Linked DNA regions of Homo sapiens: region 1 is linked to region 2. Evidence: fine-mapped expression QTL. Tissue or cell type: testis. Region 2 holds a variant in brackets; the other region holds the start of a gene. All regions are shown on one strand. Distances are between the middles of the regions.

Region 1 (8,107 bases), 360 kb after region 2:
CCAAATTCCCATCCCATAGGTACGCACCTGAAATTCAAACCCAAATCTATCTGGTTCTATTATACTTCCTAATCCCCAAGGCTCCCTGATTTATGCAAATTTAAGCATCTCATATTGTCCCTACTCCCATACTAAGCAAAAGTCTGATCATCAAAAGTTTAAATAAAAAAGTTGTCAGATAATATGCCTTGCTAGCATTGGCAACATTTGACAGGTATCAGATGGTTATTAATGAATTCAATCATTTAATTTACAGGTGGAAGTGGTATAAACTTTTGCTTTTTGCCAGCTGCATTGTGAAATGGTTTTCCTCCCTTACTGTTTAGGTTTTAAGGGTGTAGTTTTTGTAATTTGGGAAGTTAAAAGGAAAGACTGGCTTGGCCCAAAACTGCCTGTGAAAAGCTGCAAGCTGACACCATAGTGAAGTCAGAGGTGGAGCCCATGACTCTGGAGTTCTCTGTCCACTTCAGTAGATAGTTATGATCCCATTTTGGGCAACAGAAATGACTGATCCAAAGTAGATATGCAAAGTGATAACTCACCATTTTGTTGTCAAATCCTCCTGTTATCCCCAGGCAAAAGTCCTGCCCATATCTAAGGACTTGACCAGTGGCATCTCTGTGTACACTGTCAGTGGACAATAAGTATAATGTAAATGTAAACTCTCTGTATTAGAATCATTCTATGACTCTATTTTTTATGCATGCAATTTTGTTTATAATCAGTTTTTTGATAATTTATATTCACATACTGTAACTGAATTAGGTAATTAAATAAAAGGTGTTTTCTTTTGGTCTTAAAATCCAGCTAGCACCCTACTCCCTGCCCTGCACCATAGCTAGCACACAAAGCATCCCCACTTTGTGAGCCTCTGGTTAGAGTAAACTAAGCACATCTTGCTAATGTATACTAAGGAATTCTGGTCAAGTGCATTGACATGTTCAGAGAGAACCAAGGTAACACATTTGTAGACATTTAATACGGTTCCCTCTTAATCCTTCAGGATAACAGAGGTTGTGATCAATTTTTACTTGTCTTAACATATGTATTCAAAGGAAATCTAAATTAGAACTTGAAGAACTGTCTATATATTCTTTTTTTTCCCCCAGGCTGGAGTTCAGTGGTGCAATCTTGGCTCACTGCAACCTCCACCTCCCAGGTTCAAGTGATTCTCATGCTTCAGTGACACAAGTAGCTGGAATTACAGGAGCCTGCCACCACGCCCAGCTAATTTTTTGTATTTTTTGTAGAGATGGGGTTTCGACATGTTGGCCAGGCTGGTCTCGAACTCCAGACCTCAGGTGATCTGCCTGCCTTGACTTCCCAAAGTATTGGGATTACAGGCATGAGCCACTGTACCTTGCCTGGGTCCATATATTCTTGCAATGCTTACATTGCTGTCATACGAATTAGTAATAGTTTTTAATTGTGATCATGTATCTATTTCTTCTCTAAGGATTTAATTGTTCATTTTCAAAATCTCTTCAAATACATTTTTAATGGACAGTTAATTTTAAAAGAGAAAATCCCATCTAGTGCCACATTGTATTAAACTACACGTTTTTATTGTAAAAAAAAAAATAGCCGTATTAAGAACAATGAAAACACTCAAATGAGCTCAAAAAGTTCCAAAATGTTATAGGGAAAACCTACTTTGCTTCCAGGCAGAATATGGATTTAATTCCCTGGATCCTATACTCATGATTTAAGCATTTTGAATTGAACACAATTATCCTGCTGTCTAAGGTAAAAAGGGATTGTAAAGTTCCTTTGACAATAATTCTCAAGGTAAGCAAAGCAAGATGAAAATCACGAAAAATGTTCACAAAACCTTTCCCTCCACTCAGTGGCTCCAATACCCAGGAATCTTTAAGCTACAAGTGAAACATATTTATGATGAAAATGAACTGAAAATTAAAGTCTCTTTACCTCAAAATGATAAAAGTGTTTCTGCCAATTGGGGTCTTGGCTTGAACTGCGCTCAGGCCACAGGGTACCTCTAATTCGTCTTTCAGATGGGACTGAATTTCATCTGGAGTCATACACAGGCTCAGGTCCCCACGCAGAAACACATCAGCTTCTGTGTCAGGATCATCAGGATTCACAAGCATCACTTTGTCACCGTAATGAATATAGCCATCTTCAGTTACGGAAAGTTGCATCTACAATTTTGATAGTAGTTTATTACATAAACCATGCAATTCCTCAACAGTTACTGCCAAGGCAATTTTCTTCCTTCTCGGACTAGTACCCATTTCATTCAGGATTTCACTTGGATTCCCTCGAACCCTTAGTTCCTTCTTCCTTTCCCTTCCCCTTTGCCAAGGCAAAGCTCCCAATAATTCCAAATGAAGTCGAATAAAGCTGGTTAAAATCACATGGATTTACTCATTATCCTAGAAATTCAACATTCATTGAAAAATTTGTCGATTACCAACTAAGGGGCATTTTACTTATTTACATATTAACTCATTTATTTCTTTATTTGTAAAATGCAGGTAAACATGATTTAGGGCAGACTGTTTATGTTTCTAAAATCTTAGAAGAATTTAAAACATTGCAAATTGTTTTTAAAAACTGTTATTTTCCAAATGGTAACTCAGTTATGAAATTTTTTTCTTGCTTAACATATACTCACACCAAGTTCAACAGAATTTTGAAAACAATGTCTGAATTTAAAGTTACCGGTCTCAATAAACATACGTGTGCATGTGTCTTTATAGCAGCATGTTTTATAATCCTTTGGGTATATACCCAGTAATGGGATGTCTGGGTCAAATGGTATTTCTAGTTCTAGATCCCTGAGGAATTGCCACACTGACTTCCACAATGGTTGAACTAGTTTACAGTCCCACCAACTGCGGCACTATTCACAATAGCAAAGACTTGGAACCAACCTAAATGTCCAACAACGATAGACTGGATTAAGAAAATGTGGCACATATACACCATGGAATACTATGCAGCCATAAAAAATGATGAGTTCATGTCCTTTGTAGGGACATGGATGAAGCTGGAAACCATCATTCTGAGCAAACTATCGCAGGGACAGAAAACCAAACACCGCATATTCTCACTCATAGGTGGGAATTGAACAATGGAGAACACATGGACACAGGAAGGGGAACATCGCACACTGGGGCCTGTTGTGGGGTGGGGGGAGGGGAGAGGGATAGCATTAGGAGATATACCTAATGTTAAATGACGAGTTAATGGGTGCAGCACACCAACATAGCATATGTATACATATGTAACAAACCTGCACGTTGTGCACATGTACCCTAAAACTTAAAGTGTAATAAAAAAAAAAAAAGTTACCGGTCTCAAGAGATTCTGTTTTAGTCTTCTACTTCTCTGTATGAGAAGTTTCCCCTTGTCTCTCTTCTCTAAGAAGTCTTTCATGAGCTCCTAAACAGAAAATCAACAAAAGTAGCCCTGAATAATATAGATGTTAGTATTAATAACTTTTAGGTCAGAAGCTCTTCCAAGTTGAAAAAGCAAAATTTGAGTACAAAAAAAGAGATGTGAGCATAATTGGAATGATGGAACGTTTTTAGCACTACTTTAATATTTTTACTACATTATAGAATGTTTAGAAAAATGAGAAAGGCAAAACAAAGAAAAAGAAACATCACCAGTAATTACTCCAGCCAGATACCATCCTAAATGACATTTGGAGGCCATGTCTCCCCTGCTGGGGTTTCCCTTGACCGTATGATGACTGACACTAGAAAGTTCACCCCTCCCCAATCTGACCCGTATACGAATGGCTCAAAGCCTTGTTAAGACCACCCTTGGGAGAATACGAGGCAGTGAGTGAGTACAACGTCAATAAAAGGAATACTCAGGGTCATTTAAGAGGGCAAGCGTGGCAGGGTTGGAGTGGGGAGGGATATTATTTCTACCTAGAACCTGTGTCCTCACCTGGCCCGCAGCCTGAGACTGTAAGACTCTAAGGAATACGGGGGACTTAGTGGGGCTCTAGACTAAGCGGGAGACACAGGCCAGGGGCTTGAGAGTCAAGGCATCTGACTTTGGGAGGCCAAGGGACCCAGAGAAAGAAAAGTCAGGGTGCTCGGAGTAGAGGTCAGTGAGACCTGGGTTTGCAGTTCGGCAGGTGAGATTCCTTGGGAGTTTAGAGAAGTGGGGGATTTTAGAGGTATTCGCTGTATGCTGGGAGAGAGAGGAGGCTTGAGGCGCTCAAAGTAGGAGACTGAACTTAGAGCAGGGTCTGGGAGTTCCTGAGCTGCGGGTCTGCGCCTGGCCACACCCTGCGTACCTCCTCCAGGTAGACATCCTCATTCCAGTTGCCTATCCGGACTCCCGGACCATACACGTTCTGCGCCATCGCTCCCTGCTGTTCAGCAAGTGGGCCTCCCTCCGACACCATGCGTTAGCGTGGCGCGTCGCCATGACGACCCGGCCCCAGGCGATTGGTCAAGGTCTGGGACCCTGCTGGCCAATAAGCGACAGCGCGCACCCTCGCCCTGGGGCGGGAGATGGGGCGTCTGGGTCAGCGGCTGTCTGTGGCCCTCCAGCCCGCCCCACTTCCACCTCTTAGATTTCCTTAACTGCAGGGTGGGCGAGAGGGAAAACCCTGGCTGACAAAGTGCTTCCGAGAGAGAAATTTAAAGCTTTCTTTCTATTAGAATCTAACCGAAAAGTGCTATCGAGTACCCCTTGCTTGTCGAGGCAACAAAGAGGAGCTTTTAAATGGAAGCACGGCTTGCTTGCAGCCTATTTTTTGTAATCAGCAGCAGCAGCAGCAGCAGCAGCAGCAGCAATTTCGCCCTAATCATAAAACAATACCTGCTCAATGTACACATTTGGAAACCAAAATCGCATAGAAAGAAGAAAGGAAAATTAATAATTTCAGGGCCTTAAAAGTAAGAAATATACCATGTTAGTATATTTCTGTTTATAGGTTTCTGAGGTTGTCCATATTTTTGCGGACTTGACAGCATCCTCCCTCCCTCCCTCCCTTGCTCCCTCCTTCCCTGGGTCTCAAAGTTAAAGGACGAACCTGTGATTTGCAGGAACTCTTAAGAAAACCAGACTCTGCTGTAGCCAGCATTAATAAAACAAAATATTATTTTCTGGGGAGGGGAGGGATACCAGTTACTGTAGGACTACCGGAGGCTTGATGCAGATTGAATGCATTCAGTAATTTACCTCTATTTAGTGTCTAGTAAGACATGACTGAAATGGAAGACAGGAGCCTCCGCTCCCTTCAGCAAACCCAGTCTAAAAGAAAAGATAGTTCATGAAAACGAATTACTTAAGGAAGACTGTGGAAAAATGCAATTAAAGATGTGCTGATGGGCTGGCGTGGTGGCTCAAGCCTATAATCCAGCACTTTGGGAAGCCGAGGCAGGAGGATCACTTGAGCCCAGGAGTTCTAGACCAGCCTGGGCAACATAGTGAGACCCCATCTCCAATTTAAAAAAAAATACATATATATATATATATATATATATATATATATATATATATATATATATGCTGATGAAGGGCCATGGAGTTGAAGGATCCTTTCTGTCTTGAGGAACTGTGAGAATGGGAATTGGATGGCCTTTGAGTGATGGGAGAGGGGCTGCTTTGGAGCTGAACTGGGAAGGATTTGAACTGGCAGGCTGAAGTGTAGAATAAAAATAGGAACATTCCCACATTCTGATGAATCCACCAGCTCTGTCAATATATCACCACATTCGAGGATACTTCTGAAGGACACATAGGACAAAGCAGTTAGATCAGATAGTATACCACTAACTGCATTTGATAAATTCAGAAACTGAGACTCAAAGAAGCTAGCAGTCTAAATTCAAACTGCTAAAAGTTGCTCAAAGAAAGGACTCAGTCCAAACTTTCCGACTCCAAAGTCATGTTTGTTTGTTTTTCCTTTTAAGTATTTTTCATATTCCTCATAAAATCAAGAATAAAACAAAGCAGCTCTAGTCTCTACATTTTTAACAAGGTTCTAATGATTGGGTCATTCAGTAAGTCCTTACACTGATACAGCTTTGCTCCCACCTACTTCCTTAGTGCTATTTTTGACAAGTATATTACATTTCTATATATAATAGACCCAATAATACAATTATACATAGTGTTTTATACAATTGCTTTAAATCACTCAGGAGAAGAAATATCTTTATTGGTGCTCTATGGTATTTTTCTATGAACACAAATTACTGCTTTGTGTTGTTTTCAACCTGAATAACTTCCTTCCATATTTCTTATAAATCAGGTCTGCTAGCAACACATTCTCTTGGTTTTTGCTTACCTTAATAAGATGCTTTTTCTGGATACATGATTCTTTGTTGATAGCGTTTTTTTCTTTCTTTCAATATTTTAAATATGCCATCCTACTACCTCTGGACTCCCTTATTTCTTTTTCTTCCAAGACAGAGTCTCACTCTATCAACCTGGCTGGAGTACAGCAGCACAATCTCGGCTCACTGCAACCTCTGCTTCCCAGGTTCAAGCAATTCTCATGCCTCAGCCTCCTGAGTACCTGGGGCTAAAGGCATGTGCCACCATGCCTGGGTAATTTTTGTATTTTTAGTAGAGATGGGGTTTTACCAGGTTGGCCAGGCTGGTCTTGAACTCCTGACCTCAAGTGATCGGCCCTCCTCAGCCTTCCAAAGTGCTGGGATTACAGGCATAAGCCACCCTGCCCAGCCATGGCCTCCATTATTTCTGATGAGAAATCAGCTATTAATCTTATTTTGCTTCCCTTACACATACTCTTGCTGCTTTCAAGATTTTTTTTGTCTTTGTCTTTAATATTTTAACTAGATATATTTGGATATTGACCTCTTTTCTTTTATCCTGCTTGAGCTGCCTGAATATGTAAATTAATGCTCTTTTCATCAAATTTGGGGAATTTTCAGGCCTTATTGTTTGGAATATTTTTTCTGATCCTTTGTCTGTCTTCTGTCTTTATGAAACTCCCATCATGTGTATATTGATGCACTTACTGATATCCTGCATTCCTCCAAGATGCTATTTGTTTTTCTTCATTTTTTTCTCTCTGTTCTTCAGATTGCATAATTTCTATTGATTTGTCTTCAAGTTTGCAAATTTTTGTTTTGCTGGCTCAAACTTACTGCTGTATTCCGCTAGTGAGTTTTTTATTTTGGTTATGGTACTTTTCAACTACAGAATTTACATTCGGTTATATTTTATAATTTCTCTCTATTGATATTTTATATTTCATAATGAAACACTATCATCATACCTTCCTTTAATTCTTTAATCATGGTATCCCTTAGTTTTTTGAACATATTTATAATGGCTGCTTTGAAGTCTTTGTCTGCTAAGTCCAACATCTGGGCTCTGTCAAAGGCAGTTTCTGTTGACTTTTTTGTTTGTTTGTTTTTTATCTTCTTTCTGTCTGTGGATCACAGTTTTCTGTTTCTTTGCAGGTCTCATGATTTTTTGTTGAAAACTAGACATTTTAGATACAGGAATACATCATTTTATTGCAATTCACTTTATTGCACTTTGCAGATATTGATTCTTTTTTTTTTTTTTTTTTTACAAATTGAAGGTTTTTGGCAAGCCTGCATCAGGCAAGTGTGTTGGAGCCATTTTTCCAACAGCATACGCTCACTTCACGTCTCTGTGTCACATTTTGGTAATGCTCAAGATATTTCAAACTTCCTTATTATTATATCTATTATGGTGATCTGTGATCAGTGATTTTTGATGTTGCCATTGTAGTTGTTTGGGGCACCATGAACCATGGGCATATAAGATAGCAAATCCAATCAATAAATGTTAGGTGTTCTGACTGCTCCACCTACCAGCCATGTCCCCATCTCTCTCCCTCTCCTCAGGCCTTCCCAGTCCCTGAGACACAACAATATATAAATTAGGACAATTAATAACCCTAAAATGGCCACTAAGTGTTCAAGTGTTCAAGTGAAAGGAAGAGCCAAATGTCTGTCTCTGTTTTGTTTTTGTTTTTGTTTTTGAGATGGAGTCTCGCTCTGTTGCCCAGGCTGGAGTGCAGTGGCACGATCTTGGCTCACTACAACCTCCACCTCCCAGGTTCAAGCGATTCTCCTGCCTCAGCCTCCCAAGTAGCTGAGACTACAGGCGC
Region 2 (8,107 bases):
GAAAGCCCAGGGCACTGCTGCCAGCTGGCCCTCTCTGAGCCTGGCTCTGAGAGCAGGCCGACTGTGCACGGGTTCAGAGGCATCCATCACCTGGAGAAGGCACAGAAGGCCTGCTGCGGTAGGGCTGGATTTGAGTCCAGGTAGGTGGAGAGGAGAATTACACATTAGGAAACCATGTGAGCTAAGGCAGGAACACACGAAATCTCTTCCAGGACAGGGAGGAGCCCTGTTGTGAGAGCCTGAGAAGGGAAGAAAAAGCTGTAGAGAATAGCAAGGGCAGATGATGGAAGTGTATGCATTGATATAAAATATGCACCCTCACCTTAGTCACAGGAGAGATCATCTGGTGGATATGAAAATGAGTCTCTTCTGTGCTCCCTTAAGAAGGAAGAAGCGTGGGACAGAGGACTTTCAAGCATGGCTGTCAACCTTGTCTACCCATTGGGATCACCTGGGACCTCTGATGTCTGGTGCCTTGTCCCCATACTCAGAAATTCTGACTTAACTTGTCTGGGTGCCAGCTGAGAGTGGGGATTTGAGGGAGCAACCCAGCTTCTCCTAAGGTGCAGCCATAGCTCTAGAGCCTGACAGCTGATGAGAATTTTGCTTCCCGGCTGTGTGTGTGTGGAGGTACGTCACCTAATGCTCAGGGCTGACTTCTCCATTCGGCACAGCAGGCGTGGTGCTTAAGGCCCATGATACTTTTAGCAGCCCACACAAATGCTTTACATTTTTTTAATCAAAAGAAAAAAGTGAATATAATTCAGCCTGGATTATATTTGTCTTTCTACCAATGTAATTCTAAAATATAATCTTAAATTTTTTTTATGGAGGAGGGTCCATGAAAGTCACAATGCAGCCACTGCTGGGCCTTACCATGCCAATCTGTGAAATGGGGATAGTGAGGAGTCACCTATTCTACCCAGTTGCTGTGAATAAGTCTTCCTCTTATCCCTCTCCAGCAGTGAAATTTGTCCTACTTTGCACTTACAAAGTAATCTCTTACACCATTTCCCCTATTACTGCTTTGAAGTTTCATAAAATTATTTTACTCTTACAAAATCTTTATTCTTACTAAATGAAAGAACTTTGAGTACCGTGGACCCTATCTTTTACATATATATATATTTGCAGGGGTTGGAAAGCAAATTCCATGCAGAAAAACTAATTACAGTGCTTTGCGCGTTGCAGCTGTGCAATCAGCATTGGTTGTTTTGAACTGGGTGGGAGGCAGTCGGGCAAGCACTTCAAGAGATCAGATTCTTGCAGCACATGTGTGGTTGCACATCTATTGCATGCCGGGGATGGAAACACTCTCAATGAACGTCTTTTTGTGTTTCCACATCTGTAAGATCATCAAGATCACCTGGGGAACCTCAGGCCAGCTCTCAAAATTAGCATATCGAAGTACAAGGCTGCATGGATGTATGTATATAGTATGTATATTAATCCCCATTGAAATTGAAGAATTAGCCAAACATGGGAGTCACTGCTTTTTAATGTCCCTTGTGCCAGATGTTCTCTATGTGCTTCTTCAAGTCAACTCTCCACCCTTCTCCACCCGGTTTTCTGCCCCACAGACAGACTCTTAGAAACTGCACCCAAGGCTTCCCTTGCCCTGTGGCTTCCAGTTGGTTTCAGCCTATGGGAGGCACTGACAGGAGATGGTGAGAGGAGAGTGAGGAGAGTACAAGTGTTAATTTCCATCCTCCTCATCCCATAATCTGGCACAGGCTGTGTTCTGCCTAAGGTCCTATCCTCTAGCAGTAGCTCTCTGCAGGTTCTGGAAGAGAACCTTCCAGGCAGCTGAAAACCCAAAGGCATTTATATTACCCTTCCTTTGGTCTCTACAACCTACTCACTCCCTTGTAAATAGGCCCTTCATTAAACTCTCTTCAGTTGCCTCTTCTGGGCTGTGCCATAGCTTTCTTGCTTGGACCCTGAGTTCCTTAATTCTATACTGTATTTTTTTTTTTTTGCAGGTAATCCTGCAGTCTTAATGTGATCACCTTCAGGGTTTGGAAACTCAAATGCAATACCAACATTTATGTTATGTTATTACAGTTTACTCTCCAGGTTTTTTAAAGAATGTTTATGCTTTGCTTTCAAATATTACTATTGTCTATTTTATCCCTACAGCAAATGTATGAGATTGTTATGATCAGCATTGTTTTAGTTGAAGAAATTGAAGCAACACAATAAACGGTAACTTGTTTCAGATTGCACTGCGAGTAAGTGGTAGAGCTGGGGCTCCCACATCGTGGTCCCTGCAGTCCCAATATTCTTGGTGAATTCATCTGAATGCCTCAGAACCCCAGGGAGGAGGAAGCTGTCATATTTAACACCTAGAATTTACTTTTCACAAGTTGGCTAGCTGTGGTTTCTGGATTATAGACTCCTCAAGTGCACCGTAGCCTTGCTTCAACTTGTGGAGAGGGCTTTATTGAAATAATTTTTCCCCATGATTGATGGGTTGCAAATCCATGCCATGAATCTGGGGGCAGCAGGCTTTTCTTTTTGCTGTTGCTGAGGCAGCACTGTAAAACATAATGTACGGCCACATCAGAGTGAGTATTTTCCAGGAAAAATGCCTGCTTCTACTTAAGTTTTATGGGGTCCCCACTTAACATCTCCTTTGGAGTACACACAGAGCTTTTCTAGTTGAGTCTTTCCTAGAGACACTCAATGGACGGAAAGCCACATCATCTACCCTAACAAATGAAGGGGGAGGCAGGGCTCTTTTTTAGAAGGAAATGGCACACTTTTCTCTTTTCTTTAACTGTTTATTGGCAGACGTTTAGTGTGAGTCTGCATACCTGGAAATAATTATATCCCATTCCAGGAATCACTTACAAACCTGGATATTGAGGTGAGACCTGGAAAAAGGGATTCTTTTCACTTCAAGAGAGAAAAATTGGATATGCAGCTGGATTGGCTGTCTCCCTTTTGCAAGTTATTTAACTTTTTCTGGGCCTCAGTTTCTTCACTTGAAACTTGAGATAGTAACATCCACTTATAGGGAAATGAGAGGGATTATGTTAGATAATGAAAGTCAACATACCTTACAAATGTAAATTACTTTCTTGTGATCTTTTGGATCACATGATTAAACAATATTTTGTGCTGAGTTTTGTATGTTTGATATGGGTCAAATGGATTTGGTCCCTTGAGCACATCTCTGTCTGGCCCCGGCAAATATATCACCCAAGTGAAGCTGAGCCGGTGATAACAAAATCTTCCCTCAATGCAATCACTTGGGGGTCAATGGTGAGAAGAACACAGAGTTAAGGAAAGGCCTGACAGAGTTGGGTTTGAATCCCAGCTCCACTCTTATCAGCTGTGTAGCAAGGAAACAGAATACGATTTGCAGAACCCAGTGGAAATACAGACCCCTTTGTTCAA[A/G]ATTTATTAAGAATTTGAAATGGCAATAGCAGAGCATTAATACAATCATGTGGGGTCCCCTTCGGAGGATGGGGCCTTGAGCAACTGCACATGACCTTGTGGGTGACCTCGAGGAGCTCTTTTAACTGCTCTCGGCCTGGGTTTGCTCATCTCTAAAATGAAAGGAGAGCAAGTGACTGTCTGGCAGGGTTATATGTGAGGAGGGGTGCTAAGGTGTCCAACAGGCACAGCACAGGCACACGTGGGGCTCTGCAGGCAGACCCTGCACTATTCACAGTCCTTAACAACAGCATTTGGCTTAGGGACTCTGAGCCATGCTGCTCCTTCTTTAGTTTATTTCTTGAATGACTCACTTCTACCAGCACAACGGGCAAGGACTTTGGTAGGGTAACAATCTAGATCTAGACAGAGTGAGGTTGGAGTCACCGTTGTTACCAAACATTGATTATTATGAACTATTACAGTTGAATCTAAAACTAGAAGTAAAAAAAGAAAAAATCCTTTAAAAATGAGTTATGGTGTAGGCGGAATTAAAGAAACAAGATATAGTTTCATTGGGCATTCGATCTTTAATGGGCAATGTCAGGTTATCAGTGACTCCAGGGCACACTATGGCTCATGGTCAAAGCTAGCTCAATACCTGTTTTTATAAATAAAGTTTTATTGGAACACAGTCACAGCCATTCATTTACCTATTGTCTAGGGCTGCTTTCACATGACAGTGGTAGAGCTGAGTTGTTGAAACAGAGAGTATTTGGCCCACAAGCCTAAAGTATTTACAATCTGGACCTTTACAGATCAAGTCTGTTGAGCCCTGATTAATGGTCTCCAGAGTCGTCATGTGTGGAATAAGGAATTAGATGAGAACGAGTACGCTTTGTTAAGAGAACAGCACTGCACAAATACTAGAATTGATTAGCCCCTAATGTTGACCTACTGTGGTGTTGGGTCTGCTATAAATCTGCTTGATTCTGGAAGAAAGTCAAGAAATACACAGCATGTAATTAAATGATCAACCAGTCAAGCCTTTATCGGGTGGCAATTATGGGCAAAGCACCTTGGTAACTATCACCTCAGGGGGGCAGTTTGGCTTGCCAAATAGCTGAGTGCCACATCAGTGCTGCTGGTGAAAAAATATGAAAGGAAAAAGAAAATAAAGGAAAACTTATCCTTTCTTCAAAACACTCAAACCTTCTCCATTTAATTTAGACTCCCCAGCTAACATATAGTTAAAATCTCAGCTGTGCTTTTCTTTGAGGGGGAAAAATTCCAATGCTTTGGGAAATCTGCCAGTCCCTGACACTAGAGCCCTTGGATTTTGGGGGTGGTGATAAAGAGACTCACATTCTCCTCCATCACCAAAGGTTACATTTCCAAATTGAATGTATTGAATGTTAGGAGTATGTACATGTTAAATGTTGTTCAGCTGCAGAAGTGCTAAGAGCCTTAATAAAGGTATTGATGTGGGCTTTCTCAGCACCCCCACCACCACATGCTCCACTATTGAGATCAGGGTGAATGTTCTGTAGTGCACACCCGTAAGCCAGGCTGTATGAGCAAGCCAGTCTGCTGTGATCCTCTTGGCGGATCTCCATCATTGTTCCAATGGGCAAGGTGCCGAGGGGAGGCTGCAGCCAGACTTTCTGCCCAAAACACAGCAAATTCTCCCATCTCCAATCACTTGACCATAGGCTCTTTCATCTATAAACCTGGCCCCTTTGCCAGACCATCCTCCATTCTGCCAAATTTGAATAATAAGCCCCAAAGCAGCTCCTGCTGCTGGATGAAGCACACCTTCCTCTGAGCGGGGATTCACATTTCCTTCCCAGGCACTGAGCCATGAGCTGAAACCACTTTTCATCCTGAAATGAGGCTGTGCTGACTGATGGTTACAGCTTTTTTTCTGGGTCTCTGTCAACATGTGCAAATAAATTAATTCGATTCAGTGAGAGCAAGAAAATCAATTAAATTAGTAAAATATCTCACTGTCTTGTGTCAATGATGATAGTCCATTTTATTTAAAAATAACAACACCTCTCTTTAAGACTGTGTAGACCCAGGAGGCTACTAAACCACCTTGTTATATTCCCGATTATATTAACAAATTGCCACCTCTTAAGAGAGGGATTCTAATCTCTATGGAACCACTCTCCTCTCTGTCAAGTTCAGGTGGTGATAACTGCTTCTTACTCATCTTATAAGAATATTACGAAAACGCATGAGATCATGTCTCAGAACAGAGCTCTAGAAGAGAAGCTCAGAGCTTGTTGTCACCTTCCCTTATTCTCCACTTTTTCCTGACCTCCTTTTTTTCTCTACTTTTGCTCATAGAATTCCACTCCTAGTGAGAAGAAAGTCGCCTGTGGCAATCTCAGCATTTACCCTACATCTTTCCTAGGGGCATGTTCATTAAGCCAAGATATACCCAAAAGATGGTGTGCAGTAACCAGCACTCTAGGTTTACATTGGAGATAAGGAATGTTTGTTCTTAGAGTGCAGCATGCACATGCATTATTGAAATGTTATATAACCATAAAATCGAGGTCATACCTCCCTGTGGGATAATCTCCACCTTCTCTCTAATACCACCGTGCACTTGCCAGATCATTTCAGGTGTGCATTCTTTGCAAAGAGATTGCTCTTTCCTTCCTATTTCTTCCCCCAACAGATCTCTGCAAAAGTTCCCTTTTGTGACACCATTTTCTTTGACAATCTTTCCATTGGAACCAGTTTCTTCTGCATTCTGCTGAGCATCTTCGTTCTCTGGGAAGGATGCCTTCTCAGAGGTGGCCTCCTCTGGCAACCACAGGTCTGTTTCCCCCTGATATGGTTTGCCTGCGTCCCCACCAAAATCTCATCTTGAATTGTAGTTCCCGTAATCCCCACATGTCGTGGGAGGGACCAGGTGGAGAAAAATCAAATCATGGGCGGCTACCCTCATCCTGTTCTCGTGATAGTGAGTTAGTTCTCATGATATCTGATGGTTTTATAAGGGGCTTCCCCCTTCACTGGGTACTCATTCATCCTCCTTCCTGCCGCCCTGTGAAGAAGAACGTGTTTGTTTCCCTTTCTGCCATGATTGTGAGTTTCTGGAGGCCTCCCCAGCCATGCTGAACTGTGAGTCAATTAAATCTATTTCTTTTATAAGTTACCCAGTCTCAGGTAGTAGCTTTGCAGCAACATGAGAATGGACTAATACACCCCACTTCCTCAGTTCCTTCTCTCCTGATCAGAAGATATTGTATGCATTATCTCCAAGGCTGATCCATCTGGTGTGCCCATGATGCTAACTGGAACATCATCAAATAAGTTTTGCCTTATGTTCTTTGAATTTTAACCTATTTCTCCGCACCAAATTATCCATCCATTTAACAAATATGCTCCAGCTATGAATATGCATCTACACTTTCATCTATACTCACATCTATAATACTTCTATAGCAAGACCTTTTGGAAATTCACAAAATTGATTTAGGAAAACAGAGTGAATATAGATATACTAAAAAATGTAAAAGGAGTTACCCTTGAGGTTGATAGTACTACTAGATATAAAAATGTTTTAAAGCTATAACAATTAAAATTGTTATGCTAACAAAGCAACCACACAGCCCACCAAAATTCTCAATAATTGGTGTTGAATACATAAATGAATGTCTATCATTATATAATATAAAAATTAGGAAAAGAATAAACATCTAATGCATTATTTTAGAACCATTAAATGTTAAATAAAATTAGCTCCACATCTTATAGCATACAAAATAAATTACAAATATATTAAAGAGTTAAATTATAAAAATCAAATTATAGAAACTATAGAAAACAAATATTGTCAAAAGTTCCCAGAAAATCTAATTGATCATCAAATTTCTAGAAAAAATTGAAGTCACAAAGTTAAAGCTCAATGAATTATACCTCTAGGACAAAAATATTTTACATAAGAAACAATGAAAAATTAAAGGAGAATTAAAATAGTTGACTATACATTTACAGCAACAAATATGACAAAGAGAAAATATAAATGTTTTATTTCTTAAAATATGAAAGAAATTTGTTTTCATTTGCAAGCTGATAGTTTGTCAATATTTTATATTTTCCTTATTAATTGTAGAAGCTTTTAGCATATTGTGTGTACTAAATCTTTGCCTGACATGTCTTTTACAAATATACTTCTTATTTTTTTCAATTGTTTTAAAAATTACTTTATGGTTCTTTACATGTTTACGAAATACAAATCTATTAACTATTTTGTTTGTAATTTCTGCTGTTAGTGCCAGGCTTAGAAGGTAGGCCTTCCCTACCTCAGAATTATATAAATTCACCTATGTTTTATGTTTTTGTCTTAATTCTACTTTTAATTTTAACATTTTTGTCTTTTTTTGTTTTAAGTTTGAAGAGAGATCTTGATTAATTCTCTCCTTATGCAATTGTCCTGATGTTACTTTTTGACTAATCCATCGTTGCCCCTATCAATATGAAATTCCATTTTTAGCATTTTTGGAGATTTGCACATAAACACACATACAGGTGCTAGTCTAATTTTTATAATTTTTATTCTGATCAGTTGATTCTGGTGCTGGCTTGTAGTTGTTCAGATTTTTCGAAGTTTGGTAATAAATTTTAACATCCAGCAGGGTAAGTCCTACCATTTTGTGGACATTTTTGCATGCTTAGTTTTCAGATGAACTTCAAGGTTATTTGGTAA

Evidence for each region. PIP is the estimated chance that this variant, and not a neighbour inherited with it, causes the effect.
Region 1: it holds the start of CFAP161, and the variant in region 2 is fine-mapped to the expression of CFAP161 in testis (GTEx, PIP 0.97).

What each region holds. Positions count from the first base shown.
Region 1 is chr15:81,130,571-81,138,677 of GRCh38, reverse strand. CFAP161 (cilia and flagella associated protein 161) reads right to left here and starts at 4,408. Exons shown (of 7, transcript NM_173528.4): 1 at 4,280-4,408; 2 at 3,319-3,408; 3 at 1,930-2,162; 4 at 543-627. The coding sequence starts at 4,348.
Region 2 is chr15:81,489,399-81,497,505 of GRCh38, reverse strand. No RefSeq gene overlaps it. Among named protein-coding and RNA genes, the nearest start is that of TMC3, 120 kb to the right of the region's middle. The variant A/G (reference allele first, on the strand shown) is at 3,403.